Linked DNA regions of Homo sapiens: region 2 is linked to region 1. Evidence: fine-mapped expression QTL. A gene starts in region 1. The other region holds a variant in brackets. All regions are shown on one strand. Distances are between the middles of the regions. Region 1 holds the start of TTC39B (tetratricopeptide repeat domain 39B). Region 2 overlaps TTC39B (tetratricopeptide repeat domain 39B).

Region 1 (5,386 bases):
ACCTGCACTGATGAATAAGATAGTGCCTCCTTCTAAGCAATTTACAGATTAGTGGGAACCCAGGAGGCGGAGGTTGCAGTGAGCCAAGATCGAGCCATTGCACTCCAGCCTGGGAGATGAGAGTGAAACTGTCTCTCAAAAAAAAAAAGTATTATTATTTAGAAATTGGGTCTTGCTATGTTGCTCAGGCTAGTCTCGAACTCCTAAACTCAAGTTAGCCTCCTTCCTCAGTCTCCCAGTGCTGTAATCCCATACAGGCGTGAGCCACCACACCTAGCCTGTGTCAGCTAGTTTTTTTAAAACAGCTTTACTAAGATATAATTTACATAATCATAAGTTCCACCTATTGTAAGTACACAATTCAAGGATTTTTAGACAATTCAGAGAGTTGAGCAACCATCACACGATCTAACCCATTTTTTCAATGTTTCTGCTGTAGAAACCATTTTATTATTCTAGTACAAAAGTACATGCCAAGCCATTAAAATTGTACAGCAAGTATTAAGGATGCAAAGTGACTCACTGAAAATGTATGTAATGGACTTGCACAGACAACTGCTCTACTGACACAGAAAGAAAGAGAGGGAGGGTGGCTAGAGCCAGTACAGTACAAAGCAATGGTTATCAGCTAGGCCCTAGAGTTAGACTGCTGGGGTTCAGATGCTGGCATCCCTACTTACTTAACTGCTGTCTGGCCTCAGGCATATTACTTGAACTCTCTGAGCCTCAGTTTACTCATCTGAAAGAGAACAGCACCCTACTTTATGGGGTTATGAAGAATAAATGAAATACTATATGCAAGAGGTTCAGTAGAGTCCTGGCACATAGTAAGGACTCAAGAACTATTAGCTGTTTTTACAGTTATCACTGGATGACTATTAAATAGCCTTTCATGAGCCAGACATGGAAGACCACATGCTCTAATTAAATTTATATGAAATTCTAGAGAAGGCAAATCGATGTTGATAGCAGATCAGTGATTGACAGAGGCTAGGGAGCGGAGGTAGGAAATTGACAGCAAAGGGTCACAGAAAACTTTTCAGGATGTTCTATATTATGACTGGGATGCTTTGTAAACACTTGTCACTGAATCACACATTTAACTTGGTGCATTTTTCTGTATGTAAAGTAAATCTGACCTCTCTCCCCCAAACTCTTAAAGATCTAGCTTTTAATTTTCCAGTTATTTTACATGTCAGAAGCAAGGTTCAGTTTCTAAACTCAGCCAACAAATATCTGTTGAGCACCTACGATGTGCAAGACACTGTTCTGGGTGTTGGGGATACAGTCTTGAAGAGGACAGATAGCATCCTACCCCCATGGAGTTTATAGTTCAAGCACGAATTATACACCTATGTTTGGAGTTACAAAATACAGGATGCTATGGGGAGAATACACTGTCCGGGTAGGGGGAAGTAGAGGAGTTCCAATATGTATAAATCTCTGTCCCGCGTTTTTTTCTATTTTTTGAACACAGAAGCAAGCAGAGTCCTTCCACCTACAGTCCAGGTGGGTGGTGTGTCAGAGGCCTCTCGGGGACCAGTGACCGTGACCCAAGGCTGCCCTCAGGCCACACCATCTGCGAGATGCGGTGGCCACCTGGCGAGGGAAAAGGACTGGCACCGGACCAAAGACCAGGTGGATGCTTCCACGGACCCCAGGTGGGGCGCTGCTTTGACCTTGGCTTCGTCATGCCCGCGCTCTCTAGCTTCTTTCCAGGTGTGCCCAGCCACCGCAGAGAACAGGCGGCAGGAAAGCTTAGGAAACCCTCCCAGAGGGCGTGCCAGACCGGGAAACTTTATCTGGGAGGTGACTCCACCCACTTGGGCGGGGCTGCCGCCCGCTGGGGGCCGGGCAAGTGGCCCGGCCAGCGGCGCGGCGTCCGGGGAGGAAATGGATGCTGTGCTGGCCTGCCGGCTCCGGGGGCGGGGAAATCGAGTAGCTGCACTCAGGCCCCGCCCGAGACCCGGAGGGAGCGCCGGGCCGTCCCCTTTTGCCCTCCTTTGCGCTGGGCTGAGCCCAGAGCCGAGAGCAGGAGTCGGCTCTGAGTTCCCTGCTTGGTTTTTGGGTGGCAGCAGCCAGAGGAGGAATATGGCGCTCTTAGGCAGCCGAGCGGAGCTGGAAGCGGACGAGGTACGATCCGATGGGGATTGCGGGCCCGGCCCCTGAAGCCCTGGACAGGAGTCCGGGAGAGAAGAGTGAGCCCGGCTAGGACGGCCGAGGCCCCGCCCCCTTGGTCCCCTCTCTGGGGTGGGCTGGCGGGCGCCGGGTGGGGGCGCCCGGCCTTGGTAGGTCTGTCCCCGCTGGAGCTAGGAGGGTCCCTGCGGCGCGCGGAGCGGACGCAGTGCCGAGGTTCGGAGCGCCGGCCCCGCGAGTCGTGGGGATGGAGGACCCACGTCCTGCCAGCACTTGGATGGGCGTGAGGGCGCGGGACCATAGGACCCGCAGCTCTGAGCTGTTCCGGGCCGGCCCAGCGACGCCTGGGCTTTACGAAGTCTGACCCTGAAGTCCTGGCACTGGCTCTCTGGGTGTTCGTGGAATCATCCCTCGACCTGGGAATCTCACCTTCTATGGAAGTTTCCTGGTGGCAGAACCGAAAGGCTTACGATTGATGAAAAGAGGGGGCAGCCTGAGGAACAATGAGTAGAGGGGTACCTGCCGCGACAGCAGGGCAGGGCTGCCAGGGGCTGGGGCTGGAGGGCTAGAGCCGCAGCCCAGGCTGTGGTGCTTCCCTCTCCCTCCACGGGGCCGGGACACTTCCCCTAGCAGGTCCTCAGAGTCGGTGGTGGCCGGAGGGAAACCACTTTGAGAACCGACTCCGGCCTCCTTTGGTTTCAACTGTGTTTGAGTAATTAGCCACTCCTTCAGTCGTGGCGCGCCCGGGCCTGAGCACCCAGGGGCTAGCGCGCCGGACCTGTTGATTTATTGACTATTCATTTCAGCACCTGGCAACTCCAGAGACAGCGCTCTCCCTGCTCTTGAAGTTGAGACCGAGGCTCCAGCAGCAGCCAGCACCCACAGCTGCTGTTCCTGCCATCTTACCTGACTTGAATTGTGCGAGTCGCTGCCTTTAGAAGGCTTTGGTTTCAAATGATGCAATAGTGGACGATCTGGAGGAGGCGGTTAAGTTTCCCGTCCATCTCTTTAGTGCCAGGAATCTCCTGACAAGGAAGACTATACTTTAAATGTGCTCCGTAAAATAAACAAAAAACAAAAACTGAACTACAGCTCCTCTGCATGACAGAGAGACAAGAGGGCAAGCCGGGCTGTCCAGACCCTTGCTTACAGCCTGTCCCTTGCATTGAGGATCCCAAGACTGTAGAATGAAATATTTGAATCCCGATCTGTTTGTAGGAGATTTGCTGTGCTTAGAACTATGTAATTCTCTAGATTAGGGCATTGTTGAGGCGGTGCTATTATTAATTAACACTGGGATAATAGGTGTAAACTGGGACTGTTTCGGAGATACTTTGACAAATGGTCACCCCAGCTATGCTCACTGCCTACTAGATGAACGGTTGAGATGCATTAGCCGATGAGGAGGGAAGTTAGGTTTCTGTGGGTGAAACTCTGGGTGGAAGTTAGGTTTCAGAGTAGCAGAGAGCCTGGCACACAGATACTTGGTAAATAAATATTTGTTGAATGAATGAAAGACTGCAGAAAAGATGTTGCTTAATAACAACTCAGTTTTTGCCATATCATTCATTTATTTTTCTTCATTCATTAACTATTAGGCTTCTGTTACATGCTAGGTACTGTACTAGTCCTAGTTGATGAGCAAAATACAAATTGAATTCTTTGTTCATGCCAAATTTACTTTTGTCCCTCACAGTTTACCACTTCCATTGCTATAAACTGAGCAAGCGTTTATTGAGCATTTACTTTGGGCTCAAACTTGGTAGGTGCCTTAGAGAAGGCATAGTTTTGCCTCTTTATGGTTCTCAGTCTGATTAGGGAGATATGACCTGGGTACAAGAACTCTAAAAAGGAGCTCAAGTAAATGTAAGCAAGTAAGAAGTAGTGTGTTGTAGACTGGATACCCTTGATTTATTTGTAGAAAGTCCCTTACCGTAAATGGGCTTGAAGAACTCTAACCTCGAGTTCATAAGACCCTGCTCTTCAATTTTACTGGGTGCGCAAATAGCTTATTTCAGCTAGGAAGCTTTTCACGTATTTAAGAAGAGTCTGATAGTCTTTATTTGATATTGATAGTTTTTAATGGCCATTATTTGATATTCTGGGGGAGTTAAAAGGGACAAAGTGATATAGTTGGAAAAGTACCAGGTTAGGTTTTTAGGTAACCTGGTTCTTCTCTTTGTTCATCACTTATGTGTGTAAACAGCTGACTAGGTGCCAAGCCCTGTACTAGCCTGGAGGTACAACAGTGAACAAGACAGACAAGGTCCTTCCCATGACTGTTGACCTTGATTGAGCAAGTCTGTCAACCTCAGAGGGCTCTTTCAGTTCCCTTATCTGAAGAAGGAGGGGCTGGATTAGCCCTAAGTGTTCTTCCAGCTCTAAAGATCTGGGTTTTTATTGAGATGGGGGAGAGGGGTCGGGGGGGAGGTTGGGGAAGAGGGAGTTTCTTTTGGGAGAAGGGCTAATAATATGGAAATCTTTTTCTTTAAAAGTACCCAAGGAATGAATGATAATGGTAGAGAAGCTCCCATGGTAGCTGTGGGATGGAGGTTTTCTTGGCTAAATTGATTTTTTAATTTGTGTTTTTTAGGTGCTAGTATGATAAATTCGGGAGCATAGAAGTTAGGACTTGCATCCTCATTGGAGGCAAAAATTGGTTATTGGGGAGCACAAGCATCTTAGATATTATAATGGTGTGTGGCCATTTAAAGCTCAATCAACAAAAGCTTGTTTCTTAATATTTGAATTTCTCTCATTGGGTTTTCTTGTGTATTACACTAGCAACATTGATAATGGATTCATGGAAGATGTACAGAATATATTCAAGGTCAATCCAACAAATTTATAACGTAGAGATGGCTGTGGTTGGAAGACTTTCTCTCTAGTTGCCTGATCTTGAAGTCATTTTAGTTGGTTACCTTCACATACTTATGGGCTACCATTGGGTGCCTTGTGGCTTGCTTATATTTGGCCCTCAAATATAAGGATTTGAGAATTGAATGAAAATCATTTATATTTTATTATTTAATTCAATTAAGATTATTCAGCTCACCAATAATTATCTCAAGTGCCAAAAAGGAAAACATTGACAGTATTTGAATTAATATCTAGCAGCTAATTAAGTTAAAAATTTTCTCATATGAGGCCAGGTGTGGTGGCTCATGCCTGTAATCCCATCACTTTGGGAGGCTGAGGCGGGTGGATCACCTGAGGTCAGGAGTTCGAGACCAGCCTGACCAACATGGTG
Region 2 (5,386 bases), 140 kb after region 1:
CCTTTAGTTGGGAAACAGAATCAGGGCATAGAGCAGAAGAGAGCTTGACACTCCATATGGTCCTGGTTCTGCTACCCATTAGCGATTAGTGAGGAGACCTTTAGGGAGTCCACTGTGCCCTGTGTGTCACCACATTTTCTTCTGTGAAATCAAGATTAAAGAACAGATGACTTTCAAGGTCTTTTTCAGTTTTATAACTGTGAGTCTATGTATTAGGTATTTATTTTCAACAAATGACTTTAAAATGTCGAATGCAAACCATTCCCACTTGGAGTGTTTTATTTTTCAATCATCATCATTGCCCCCAACTCCCCACATGTATGTGTTGTGGCATCCAGAGTGAGAAAAGACAATTTATGAGTTGATGAATCTGGGCCTTATTTCTATTTCCATTTTGAAGAATAACTTGTCATAGAAGCCTCTGCAGTTTAACAGAAGGAGCCACATATTGGGAGTCACGAGTTCATCTCTGTGGGTTAATAGTTCCATGACACGGAGTACGTAGCTCAGCTTTTCAGGGGTTCAGTTGCCCCACTATGGATAGCGGTGTGGTATTTGGTACTTGTGAGGGCTCAATTAGATAAAACATATGATAGCTTTTTGTAAACTGTAAAAGGCTATACAAAAGTATGAATTATTATAATAATTATGGTTTTTTATGTCTGGATTACAGTATCAACACAAAAGTATTGGCTGATACTGTGGTTTGTGTTGTAAAATGAAAGAAGTGTAGAAATTCAAATACCTTACTGTGTATTCATGTGTTTGATGTTGACAGTAGGCTACCCAGGTTATATGAACCTGCTCCTGCCGTTCCCTGCCACATGGACCTGTATCAAGCAGTGTGTGGCTTGTTTTCTTCAAGGTACTGATTCTTGACCAACACTGAGGATGTATATCCAATGAAAGATAGATATCAATGGCGGTAGATATCAATGTGTTATTAGTAATACAACTTTAGGTACAGACAAAATAGAAAATAAAATTAACTGTCATTATAATTAGTAGTGGAAAATACATTAAAAATTATTTGTGTATAGCTTTGGAAAAAAGTTTTCCAAAAAAAGCTTTTTGGAAAAAAGCTCTTAGAAGAGCTTTGGTAACATTATTTTTGAAAGCGCACACTCACATTGTGACTGTGGGTATACTGAGCATATATTCTTACATTGTTACTGTGAGAAGCTGCAAGTCAGTGCTGCAAGTCAGTAACAAATTCTCTTTTGGGGATAAAATGAAACAGTTTTAAGCTTAGAGTGGCCATTTTTATTTTAACTCTGCATTACTAAACAAATATAAAAGAAATTCATCTCCATTTAAAAATCTTTTTTGTTATTTATATTTTGTTTTATTTTTGTTTCCTATTCTTTATGCAGTTACCTGATACTATGGACAGTATATCCAGTGGATCTTTTAGTACTGTAATATCAAAATGCTACAAATATTTATGTTTCCTGCTATGTTCAAGATATTGTAGTGGCACCAACTTCTTGGGCATCAGCTAATATTGCATTTTGGAGTCATTAGGGTGTTCTGTGAAGAATGAATACTGAAGTGACAGTTTTATCTAGTTTTTTGAGGGGCATTTATGATGGGGTTGGGTTGCCATTGTGTCTGACAGTGCAATTCATGTAGTTCCTGGCATAATTGCCTTTTTTTTTTCCTTAATGGAGAGGCAGGGTTCTGATTGGTGCTGTATAAATTTAAGTAACTTTGTGCTTTGTAGGAATGGTGACAAGGAAGGCATGATTTCCCCCTGACAAGGAATGAAAGGTGAACTGTATCAGCTCTTATCTGGACATATATGTTAATGTTTTCTATGCTCCCTGATACAAGAAGTTTCCAAGTTATATAGGAAAATTAAGTCCATTGATCCTGTCTTTATCCTCAGAGGGCAGAAATGAGACAAGTGGATAAAGGCTGTAGGAAGCTGAATTCCAGATTAATCAGTGCCGAGGAAGATTTTTCATTATCGGAAAACCCAACAGTCTAAAATCAATAACCAGTTCTTCTGCAAAGGGGTGAGTTTAAGCAGGGCTAATGTGACTGTCATTTCTGCCTGTCCTGCAAGCTTAGACTAGTTGAACTTTGAGGTCACTCTATGATTCTTTTATTAGGGCTTCAAATCAGCAGGGAGTGTGTAAAGAAAAAATGCTCCCCCCCTACCATTTCAAATAAAAGTGAATGTTTTCTCTTTCAAAGCTACTATTAGAGGTAGTTGTGATAGACACTAACAATCCCCGGTGTTAATACTTTCCACTCCTTTTATTTTATTTTAATTTAATATTATTTTATTGAGACAGAGTCTCGCTCTGTCACCCAGGCTGGAGTGCAGTGGCGTAATCTCTGCTCACTGCAAGCTCCTCCTCCCAGGTTCACGCCATTCTCCTGCCTCAGCCTCCCGAGTAGCTGGGACTACAGGCGCCCGCCACCACGCCTGGCTAATTTTTTGTATTTTGAGTAGAGACGGGGTTTCACCGTGTTAGCCAGGATGGTCTCGATCTCCTGAACTCGTGATCCACTCCTTTTTAAAGTGAGTCTAGTCTGTTGATCTTCATAAATAGGAGGGTTTTCCTCCAGCTTGGACATTAAAAATAATTTTTAAAAAGATCTTTGTGGCTAACTGGAAAATCTTCTGGAATTATCTAATGCTTCATTCATTTCCCTCCATTTCTGTTTTTTTTTTTT[G/TTTTG]TATTTATACTCTGCATATTTAGAAATCTTAAATTCAAATACATTTAGTTAAAATGAGTTGACGAAGACTCCAGTGATGTTTTAATACCCTAAGATTTTGTGATTCCTTGGGCCTGGAATGGATCTTAGAAAATTACCTTGCCCTCATGAGCCTGTAAACCGTGTTGTTTCCCCTCAGTCTTGCTCTGTCCAGTACAGTAGCCCCTCGCCACACATGGCTGCGGAGCACCCGGAATGGCTTACAGCACATGTGGGAATGGTGCTGAATGCTGAGGAAGCATTCACTCATACGTGCTGCACTTCTTAAAGGCCTCCCAATAGCCTGCTTTGCGGAGTTCTGGCTTTTACTTGCTGTCTACTATGATCACCTGATTTGTGCTTCACATACATATCTGTGAAGTTTGCTTTTTCTATTTAAAGTGCCCTTAAACTTTCATTTGATCGTGTTTATCTGCAGATGGTCAGTGTCATTGGCATATTTGAACATTATTCTGCCCTCCCTCCGCCAAACTCCTTATGTACTAGATTAAGAAATTTTATTTTTGAGATGATGATTTTAATTTGATTTTACAGACATTCTTTTTTACAAAGTACAGTTGTTAGAGTTATAGAAGAGTGATTCACATCTTTGAGAAGATAGATTTCATGATTAATATATATATTTTTTGAGACAGAGTTTCGCTCTTGTTGCCCAGGCTGGAGTGCAATTGCACGATCTAGGCTCACTGCAACCTCTGCCTCCCAGGTTCAAGCAATTCTCCTGCCTCAGCCTCCCAAGTAGCTGGGATTACAGGCATGTGCCACCATGCCCAGCTAATTTTGTATTTTTAGTAGAGATGGGGTTTCTCCATGTTGGTCAGTCTGGTCTCGAACTCCCAACTTCAGGTGATCTGGCCGCCTTGGCCTCCCAAAGTGCTGGGATTACAGGCGTGAGCCACCATGCCTGGCCCAATATTTTCTAAGATAAAATTATTCTGAGAAATCTAGTGGAATCTTTTCCATTGCTTTGTTATTAATGTTTCAACACTGACTTTCTCAACTAGGCCAGTATTACTATTTAAAGGTTTTTAGAGGCTGGCAATGGTGGCTCACGCCTGTAATCCTAAAACTTTGGGAAGCCAAAGTTGGGGGGCGTCACTTGGGACCAGGGGTTTGAGGCCAGCCTGGGCAATACAGTGAGAACCTGTCTTTACAAAAAAAAAAAAAAAAAAAAAAATGAGCCGTGCATGGTGGAGTGCACTTGTAGTCCTAGCTACTAGGGAGACTTAGGTGGGATAATTGCTTGATCCCAGGAGTTTGAGGCTACAGTGAGCTAAGATCATGCCACTGCACTCCACCCCAGGTGACAGAGTGAGACCCTGTCTCAAAAAAAAAAAAAAAAAAAAAAAAAATATATATATATATATATATATATATATATATATATATATATATATAAAATAAAGGTTTGTGGACACATGTTACCCATTTAGAGAATAATTTATTTTTGAATGTGTATGATACCTAAGTGATATGCATATATATAATTAAGACATTTTAAATCTCTTCAGATATTTCTTCATAAGATACATGTATCTATAGATAGCTATATACAAAACTACTTACAAATAATAAATAGACATTGTTTTATACAGTTCTTTCCAAAGAAATGCAGGATTTCTTATCCTAGTCCTTCCTCCCCGAGTCCAGTTATTTACATATTTTTGTCTTTAAGTGTTAGATTGCTTGTTTCTGCTGCCTATTGTTGGTAGTTTTGTCTTTTACACATTTGCTGTTAGATTTAGTTATTTTGAAATGTTGAACTTGAAATGTAATGAAAAGGACACATCAGAATTTATCATCAGGGAAGATATCTTTTATGTTGAGCAGCTGCTATCTGATCTTGACAGACTGTCCTCTTAGAGGACTGTTGAAGTCCATTCTAGTCATTTTGTAACTTCATAACTGCAGAAAGAAATGATGCAAGGACTGTTTAGTGGACTGAGATGGCTGAGCAGGTTCTTGGCCTGAATTATCCAGAGGAGATAGGTGGATCTAGCTTCAGAGGAAGTCTACACCCCATTCCCTTCTGCTTACAATGTACCCATGATATGTGTTTAGCACAGTAATACTGTAACAGGACATCACATGGAAAAATCAAAGCAGCTGGCTCACTGTATTTAACTGAAAAGAATGCCTACAGATTGGATATTTAATAGGGAAAATTAAGGCACTTTAATAACAAACTTCATTATGTGAAACTTGTTGAATATTAACATACAATATACCTTGTATATTAATGCCATAGTTTTTAGAAACACTAATTTAAACAACAAATTTAAGGGGTGCTGGCATATCCCAGTGACACCTTCAGTTTTATTGCTGCTTAGTATTTTCTAGTAAATTAGTTTTAATTATTGGTAGTCTGTTGGGCACCATTTGGGAAAGAAATAAATTGGTCTCAGTGTAGCAGACTTGTAGCCAAAAACTTTGAATAAAAAATAAGTATAATAAAGAATATTATTTCATTTTTAAAGGAATTGTATTATTTTGAAGTGCTGTGTGGTTGATATGGTTTGGTTGTGTCTCTACCCAAATCTCTTATTGAATTGTAGTTCCCATAATCCCCACATGGGAGGGACCCAGTGGGAGGTGACTGAATCATGGGGGCAGTTTTCCCCATGCTATTCTCATGATAGTGATTGAGTTCTCACGAGATTTG

What was found. PIP is the estimated chance that this variant, and not a neighbour inherited with it, causes the effect. A credible set is the group of variants that fine-mapping cannot tell apart.
Region 2: its variant is the best candidate, but not a certain one, in a credible set for the expression of TTC39B in whole blood (INTERVAL, PIP 0.59).

The regions. Positions count from the first base shown.
Region 1 is chr9:15,303,831-15,309,216 of GRCh38, reverse strand. TTC39B (tetratricopeptide repeat domain 39B) reads left to right here and starts at 2,001. Exons shown (of 20, transcript NM_152574.3): 1 at 2,001-2,133. The coding sequence starts at 2,092. RefSeq lists silencers at 1,747-2,086, 2,117-2,436, 4,318-4,387 and enhancers at 1,674-2,236, 2,800-3,363.
Region 2 is chr9:15,165,719-15,171,104 of GRCh38, reverse strand. TTC39B (tetratricopeptide repeat domain 39B) reads left to right here. Exons shown (of 20, transcript NM_152574.3): 20 at 1-5,386. Among named protein-coding and RNA genes, the nearest start is that of TTC39B, 140 kb to the left of the region's middle. The variant G/TTTTG (reference allele first, on the strand shown) is at 2,686.